Homo sapiens: one gene and its partner. The protein of the gene in region 1 interacts with the protein of each later gene in a biochemical or structural test. Each region holds a gene or a part of one and is shown in the gene's direction. Other genes may lie near its edges. The genes, in order: SUDS3 and SRPK1.

What was found.
Region 2: of the proteins of SUDS3 (region 1) and SRPK1, one has a biochemical effect on the other in vitro, tested with the Homo sapiens proteins (one large-scale study listed by BioGRID and IntAct).

The regions. Positions count from the first base shown.
Region 1 is NC_000012.12:118,414,393-118,418,692, forward strand, and holds the end of SUDS3 (sin3 histone deacetylase corepressor complex component SDS3), read left to right. Parts: coding exon 1-41; 3' UTR 42-3,641; downstream 3,642-4,300.
Region 2 is NC_000006.12:35,868,778-35,872,598, reverse strand, and holds part of SRPK1 (SRSF protein kinase 1), read left to right. Parts: coding exon 1-36; intron 37-1,639; coding exon 1,640-1,665; intron 1,666-2,104; coding exon 2,105-2,318; intron 2,319-2,697; coding exon 2,698-3,117; intron 3,118-3,488; coding exon 3,489-3,589; intron 3,590-3,821. UniProt on the Homo sapiens protein: Serine/arginine-rich protein-specific kinase which specifically phosphorylates its substrates at serine residues located in regions rich in arginine/serine dipeptides, known as RS domains and is involved in the phosphorylation of SR splicing factors and the regulation of splicing.

The DNA.
Region 1 (4,300 bases):
AGCGCGGGCTCTTCGTGATCCGCCGGCGCTCAGCTGCTTGACTTTCTACAGTGCTCTTCTCTTGACCCTTTTTCTGGAGTGGGTTTTATTTTTGTTTTGTTTCGTTTTCTCCTTAATAGAAAAATGTTAACTTACTGGGAATAGCTACTCAGCCTTGGAAATGGAGAGCACTGCAGTGAATTCTTTAGGGCACTTTTGTGGCCGGATGCTTCCAACTTTGTCAGTCTTTTCTGCCTCAACTTCTTCCAGACATCAGTCACCATGAGACTGTTTTACTTTCAGGCGTATTGGGGGGTTTGATTTACTTTCCTTTTATTTCTTTATTTTTTGCTTATACTTGTTTTTGAAAACCTCCTCTGAGTTTGAAGGGACAGCTATTTTTATTGATTATCTTTAAGTCTCTCTACCATGGAGAAGAGCAGGAAGGGATACACTCTCCAGTGCATTTTCATGTTTTGAATCTGATTAGTGGATCACGTAGCTACTTTCCCTGTCGCGTCCAATTCACTATTTGCCCAGAAGCTTGGGGCAGAGGTCCTAGCAGGAGATGATGAATTCTCGTGGCTCTCGGCCTTCTCAGAGAAATAAATGCTTTGTGTAACATCTGTGCACACCATCCATTCCGCTCGCTGAGCGATGGAAAAGCTTGCCTGGAAGACTATGTGCACTGAAGTAAATGGGGTTGGGGGAGGGGACATTTCATATTTATAATGTGCTGAAGGTACCATATTTTAAATGTTATTTAATGCAGGTGATTTATTCAAACATTTGTTCTAGCTTAAGCTGGAATAAGCAGTGGTCATTTCAGAAGTTTTCATTTGTAATTCCTTCCTCTCCCTTGTTCCCAAGTAGGTAGTAGTAAGTATGTGCCACAGGCTGATTATCTGGGTAATCTTTTACGGGTGGGAGGTGAGATTGATAGTGCAATAATCAGTGATCTATAGACCCTCATGCACGATTCAAGTTTCACTCTTGTGGCTGATGCCATTATTGCACATTGGCCATTCCAAACCTGTGGAGAACTTTGTTGTCAGGCCCTGAGCGCTCACAGCTTCATTTGGCCCAGGTTGAAGACAAGGAAAGCTCTGCTGTGGCTGCCTCTGGACTGACACCCTCCCTAATGAGTCCTGATGAAACAGCCTTTCCTACATCCTTCCCTCACTCCCATGATTGGAGAAATGATTCATTGGGTGATGAGTGTTGGGGTTTTCTATACTCATGTTGCCATCTTGAGATGTTCAAAAAATTTGGGGTTAGAGCAACTGTTAGCGTCTCTATGAGCAATCAGTAGAACTTACACATCCTAGGAAATCTTTCTTTGTAAGTAATTCTTTTGGTCTCAAGTGATTCTCTTCATGTTGTCTCTTGATGTACATACCCCCAAGCAAGTTGGGGGGACTGTGATGACAATTAAATCACCTTCTCTGAAGTTCTGGCTCTGCAGAGACCAAACCTTACTGACTTGTACAGACTTGTACAAGTAAAGACTTATACAGATAGATTTTTGTTTTAACTTACAATCCGTTTTTTCCTCTTTTTTTTTTTTTTTTCTGGTGTTGGAGTCTTATTTAGAAAACAGGATAAATGACGCTGTTATCAAAAGTTGCCTGGGGTTCTGTATTTCTTCTCTGCCCTCCAATCCCCGACTGCTATGATGTTTACTACAGTGAACCCAGCCCATGGTAAACACAGGCTTCACCTGTTCTTGTTTGTTAGCCTTGACTGTGAGGCAGGACTTCCCTCGCTTGAACTGTTACACATACGATGTGTGTGTCACATCACATATTGTGCAGCTGTTGGTTTTCATGTAGTGCCCTGCGATGGAAATTAGATATATTTCATGTATTTTTCCATTGAAGGTGGAGTTTTTCAATGATCATGTGTTTTGTCCTCCTAAACAGTATACCAAAGTTTGTTTTTATAGTTGAGGATTGTATTGATAACCACTGGGGTTCCGCATTGAAGCAGGAACAAATTGCCTCTTTTTCTGGCCTTCTCTGTGGGACCTCTGCTTTTGTGAAGCAACTATTTATTTGAAGACCAGGGTATGGGCACTTTTGCCTTCTCTCCTCTCTGACTTTTGAGGGTATTGAGGGCGCCCTTAGTCATAGTCTCGACTCCGCCATTGCCTTCTCCTCGGCGTCCTCACAACTCTTAATTGGGCCTAGTGAAAATGGGGGCAGGTGAGAAGTCCATTTTGAGAATCAGCATAGTAAATTACATTTCTAATCCCAGAGGACTTAATATTTTCTTTTGTCACCCCAGAGGTGAAAAATCAGCAGTTGAAGCCTGACAGGCCTCAGTGGTGACCAGGAACAGAAGCAGCCTTCCTGTTAGTAGATGGGGGTACTTCTGTGGTGGGCAGAAGCCTTACTAAAGGGGAAGACAGACTTTGAAGTTTCTAGACGAGAAGGAGGCTAGCTTCTAGCCTGGGTGGCCATTATTCCAAAAGGTCATTGTTTCTCACTAGACCCCAGGGCACCAGATGAATTTCCAAGTTTAAACTCTTTCCTGCAGGTGATTACTTTGAAAAAGGTTGGTCCAGACCATTTTGATCAAGAACCTGTATATGTGTTGTGTTAGAGGCATCTGCCTCAAGTCTATGTACAGTGTTTGCTGCGGGTGTGTTCCAATATTCATTTTACCTCTGCTTGGGGGTTTTGTGTGTTCCCCTCCCCCCATGCCCTGCCTACCCCCTTTTCCCTGAACCACGTCCTTTTGAATAATTTCCAGATGGATTTCTGTAGCCATACCAAAGCCAGGGTGTTTTCATTCATGCGGATACTAGTATTTATAGATGTCTGACTACCTAACTTAATTTTTGTTTTTGAACTTCTAATTGGGGCCAGTGTAAGGTCGATCCCAGAGGCTGATCTGCAAATCAAGCTACATGTATTTGTGTATAAGACCCTGTGTTCAGGACTGGGTGACTTTTCTAAGAAATATGGGGTTTAGAATGGGGTTGACTGTATTTTTTAACCTAATTCTGGAGAGAAGATTGTATTTTTTACAGTTTTTTGGGTTTGGCTTCCTTCTCACATTTCTTTAGCTTTGAATTTTTACTAAATAAATTTCCTCCTGATTAATTTTTTTTTTCTCATCTGGGAATTTGAAATCTCGGTGCTTACTGTTACACCAATTTGTCCAAAGAGTTGAAATCACTTTAATGCCAGAACATGGTAAATTTGCAGCCATTTCAAGCAGGTGATGGTCTTTTTTTATAACATCGTTAACGGGTACCATTAAATATTCTGAGAGGTGAATGTAAAATATAAAAGGTATAGGTTTTTTTTTTTTTTTAAAGAAAACAATAAACTTTCAAAGAGAAAACCAGCATGAAGTCTGTATTGTATCCATTGACTTGATAAGTGATAGAAATTTATTTTAGGTTTTTGATCCATTGCTTATGGGGAAAGGAAGTTAGGGCAGAGGAAGGGATATTCTAGACATTTAATTCTTAGTGAAGACTAAGATACAGAATGATGTCAGGCTAATACTCAGTTTTGTAAAGAGCAATCTGGGGTGTTGACCCTTAAATGTTTGTGCACTCTTCTTGTTGCAGATAAAAGTCATTAAAAATCAAGTGAATAGAATGGATCTTGGGTGGAAAAACAATCTTGAAATAAACTTGTGATTGAGGATATTGTTCATTTGGTGCATGATTAAGGAGGATATTGTTCCTGGCTTTTGAGATAGTGCCTACCAATCTTAACCAAACAGTGATGGTATTTGTACTGCTCCCGGGGTCAGCCAACAAGCCTGCGTGCTGCCACAGGTGACCGACCTGTGACCCAGTTATGGCACCCCTTTGGGAAAGACTGCTTTATGCTTTAGATGATGGAGAGGGGTGGTTTCTGTTTTTAAAATGTTTGAATTAGACAGAAATGTGCACAAGTTTTAATTGTAGAAGTTGTTGAAATCTCTCAAAGTGAATTCATCCATGTAACTATTATAGCATCCAGATCAAGAAATAACATTCCCAGAACCCACAAGCCCCTTAGACTTTCAGCTACTCCTCCCAACTAGTTTTCTCTATTTTAAGTACCTTAACCTTCAAGCTCTTGAGCTGCTTCCTTCCATGGTTGTTCTAGAAGAGCCAGGTACCTGGTATAGGCTAGGGATTGACCAGGAATGCAAAGAGCTAGCAGCAAAGGATATGACTAATTGGGGAGGGGAAAAACAGATTCAGGTCAACCTGCTCACCCTCCCCATTGTTCCCAAGGCAAGTGGGGCTTGCCCTTGATGTCATAGTCTGCCTTTTCCTGAGTACTTTGTATATATGCCAGGCACTGTACTAAAC
Region 2 (3,821 bases), on another chromosome or scaffold:
AGCGATCTGGAGCTCCTCCGCCTTCCGGATCTGCAGGTGTATTTTCTTTTAGGGACTTCGCTATCATTAGAAGTTAAAAAGAAATTTCTATTTTTATTCTGTTACCAGGGAATTAAACACCACTCAATCCATTTCAACAATAACATATTTAAGAAACATTATCAGCTTCCAAGAGACATTCTCACTGTTACTTCCATAGGGGAAGGAGAAAACTAGATATTGTGTCTTTGTGTTGTATGTTATAAAAGCTGGTGTGTATTGTTTAAAAATATTTTTTCTTATGAGTTGATGATTTTTGAAGTGTTTACCTCTAACTGTGATCACACATGCTCATTTATAGGACTGGTAGTCTGTAGAGGGACAAGATAACATTGCTATTAATAGTTTAGGTTTAAACACTGGAGTAGACAGACTTGGTTTGAATTTGGGCTTCATCCTAGACTGAGAAACCTTAGCTGAGTTATTTTACTTTATTTTCCCTCAACTGCGAATTATTGGGATTAAATGGTAAAGCAGTTAGTAGTGTGCCACACAATATTATATACCAAATAAATTGCGGGACCAGGCACAGTGGCTCATGCCTGTAACGCAACACTTTGGGAGGTTGAGGTGGGTGGATGATTTGGGCCCAGAAGTTTGAGACCAGCCTAGGCAACACAGTAAGACCCTGTCTCTACAAAAATTAAAAAAATTAGCCAGGCATAGTGATGCGTGCCTGTAGTCCATTTACTCAGGAGGCTGGGGCAGGATGATTGCTTGAGCCTAGGAAGTCAAGGCTGCCACGAGTTGTGATAGTACCACTGCACTCGAGCATAGGCAACAAAGTGAGACCCTGTCTAAGACATAAAATTAAATAAATAAATAAAGGCTGCTTTATGATTTTTTTTCTTTTGAGATACAGATTTTAGTTTTAGTAGTGTGTCATTTTTTAGGAACTTGCTTGATCCTCAAGTTGAGTTATTAGTTATACACTTCTTTAAAAAGGAAGACTAAAGAAGGGGGAAATGGGGAGTTGGTTGTTAAATGGATGTAGTTTCTGTTTTACAAGATGAAAACATTCTACAGATCCTGTTATACAACAGTGTGAATAGTGTTAAAACCACTGAATGTACACTTATCTAGAGTATAAATTTTTATTATGTGTTTTTTGTTAACCACAGTTATTATACTAATATTTTAAAAAGAGGAAGACTGAAGATCCTACCTTCCAGCTAAGCTACACTGTTATCCATGACATGCTGTAGAGCAAATTACTATAGCTCTTGATGTCACCTAGACTCCCCTTTTAAAACTGACAGATTCTGGGTAGCATTTGAGGTGAAGAGGTTGTTGCTTGTCCCATTCTATTTTAAGCAGTGCATGGGAATGGAAAATAGGTGATTTTTAGCAACTTTAGTTTACCTGGGGAGGAAGAATTTTATTTATCCCTTTTTTTTAAGTTTGGCAATTTCTATTCATTATTTTCTTTAAAAATGGTAATAATATAGCTTCTACTTAAGTCATTTAAAAACAATAGTTTTCTCTGCAATGTAGACTACATAAGAAAGACTTTTCATTCTGGTAGAGTGTTTTATCTGAGCCTTAGTTTATATTGCCTGATGAATGCCAGAATTCTTACTTGGTTTTCTTTTCTTTTCAGTCAGTACTGCTCCCCAGCCTAAACCAGTAAGTATAAGGTGTTTTTATATTTAATTTTGATCTATGGACTATGGGCATGGGTTCTTCTGTTGTGGATGGTAACAGTTTGTTTCAAGTTTGAGAACCAAAAGGAAAAAAAATTCCTGCGCTTCTATAATTTTCTCCAGTAAATTCCCATGCACCTTCATCACATTTGTACTGGTGAGGCCTCTAAAAAATTCGAGTTTGTCTGAATGTAAACCAACCCCACGGACTGCTCAGAAGACCACACTTTGTTATTTATTCTGTTTTTATTTGGGTTTATAAGAGTATCCCGCATCTTTTAATTTAATGAAAGACTTAAGTGCTATGTTAGGGAAAGATTTGTGAAATTTAATTAGGAAGTAATTAAAGTTAACAACTATCTCCAACTGGGGGTAATTAATTAGCCACCTGAAGGCTTTATCTGTTTGTAATCTCCGCCCAGGCTGACAAAATGTCAAAGAATAAGAAGAAGAAATTGAAGAAGAAGCAGAAGCGCCAGGCAGAATTACTAGAGAAGCGAATGCAGGAAATTGAGGAAATGGAGAAAGAGTCGGGCCCTGGGCAAAAAAGACCAAACAAGCAAGAAGAATCAGAGAGTCCTGTTGAAAGACCCTTGAAAGAGAACCCACCTAATAAAATGACCCAAGAAAAACTTGGTATAAATAGAACATCACGAAAATTACTGTACAACACACTTTAACGTTAATTTATCATTGCTATATAATACAGTGGTTTCATACATACAACACATCTCTGGGGGTATCTTTATAAGAATATGGATCTTGTCATAAATGTTAGGCAGGTAATATTTAAATGTAATTTGTAACTTTTCTCAGGAAATGGAACATAGATTTCATTTAACAATTGGGTAAAAGTAAGATCTTGGCCCTTCCGGAAATAGGTTTTAGATGTTTAGTCATGTTTTTATGTCACTCAGTATAAGTTCTAGAAAATGTTTTAATCTTGTGAGAAATGTTTCTGTTCTTTCACTCACACACATATGCATATATCTTTTTTTGTTCGTTTGTTCCTTAGAAGAGTCAAGTACCATTGGCCAGGATCAAACGCTTATGGAACGTGATACAGAGGGTGGTGCAGCAGAAATTAATTGCAATGGAGTGATTGAAGTCATTAATTATACTCAGAACAGTAATAATGAAACATTGAGACATAAAGAGGATCTACATAATGCTAATGACTGTGATGTCCAAAATTTGAATCAGGAATCTAGTTTCCTAAGCTCCCAAAATGGAGACAGCAGCACATCTCAAGAAACAGACTCTTGTACACCTATAACATCTGAGGTGTCAGACACCATGGTGTGCCAGTCTTCCTCAACTGTAGGTCAGTCATTCAGTGAACAACACATTAGCCAACTTCAAGAAAGCATTCGGGCAGAGATACCCTGTGAAGATGAACAAGAGCAAGAACATAACGGACCACTGGACAACAAAGGTACCTATGCAGCTATACTTCCTCAACACTCCTTCCCTGCACAACACATTCACAGATTTCTAGACTAAAAGTATGATTGTTTTTGTAACTATAGCTTTACAACAGGTGTGTCTAAGTTACGTTTAAATTGTAATCTGTAGCTAACTTTATCCATCATGTACTGAGTACACAGCACTTCATTTGTTGCTGTGAGGGCAGAGGTTTTTAATTCTGGAAACTCAAGGCGTTGCTGTGCTCTTTTTGTCTCAGAAAATGTAAGTTGTCACTTGGGTATTGCTGACTGTATTACTCTTACCTTGGAGAGCTTTATTACTCATTGAGTATTTCTCTGTTCATTGAACAGTCTTATTGATGATGCCTGTTGTCTGTAGGAAAATCCACGGCTGGAAATTTTCTTGTTAATCCCCTTGAGCCAAAAAATGCAGAAAAGCTCAAGGTGAAGATTGCTGACCTTGGAAATGCTTGTTGGGTGGTAAGTTAAACTTGCCTTAATGGTGTTTTGAAGTGACTGGGAGGATGAATGAGAATTTGGACTTAGTTATGCAAAACATCCATAATTCTGTACCCAGATTGATACAACACTTCAGTGAATATTTTTTTACATTTAAAAAAACCTTTTACTATGGAAAAGTTTAAATATACTTACGAAAGTAGAATGGTAATCGTGATCATGAAAAGTCCTTCTGTTACCCCACCCCACTCCA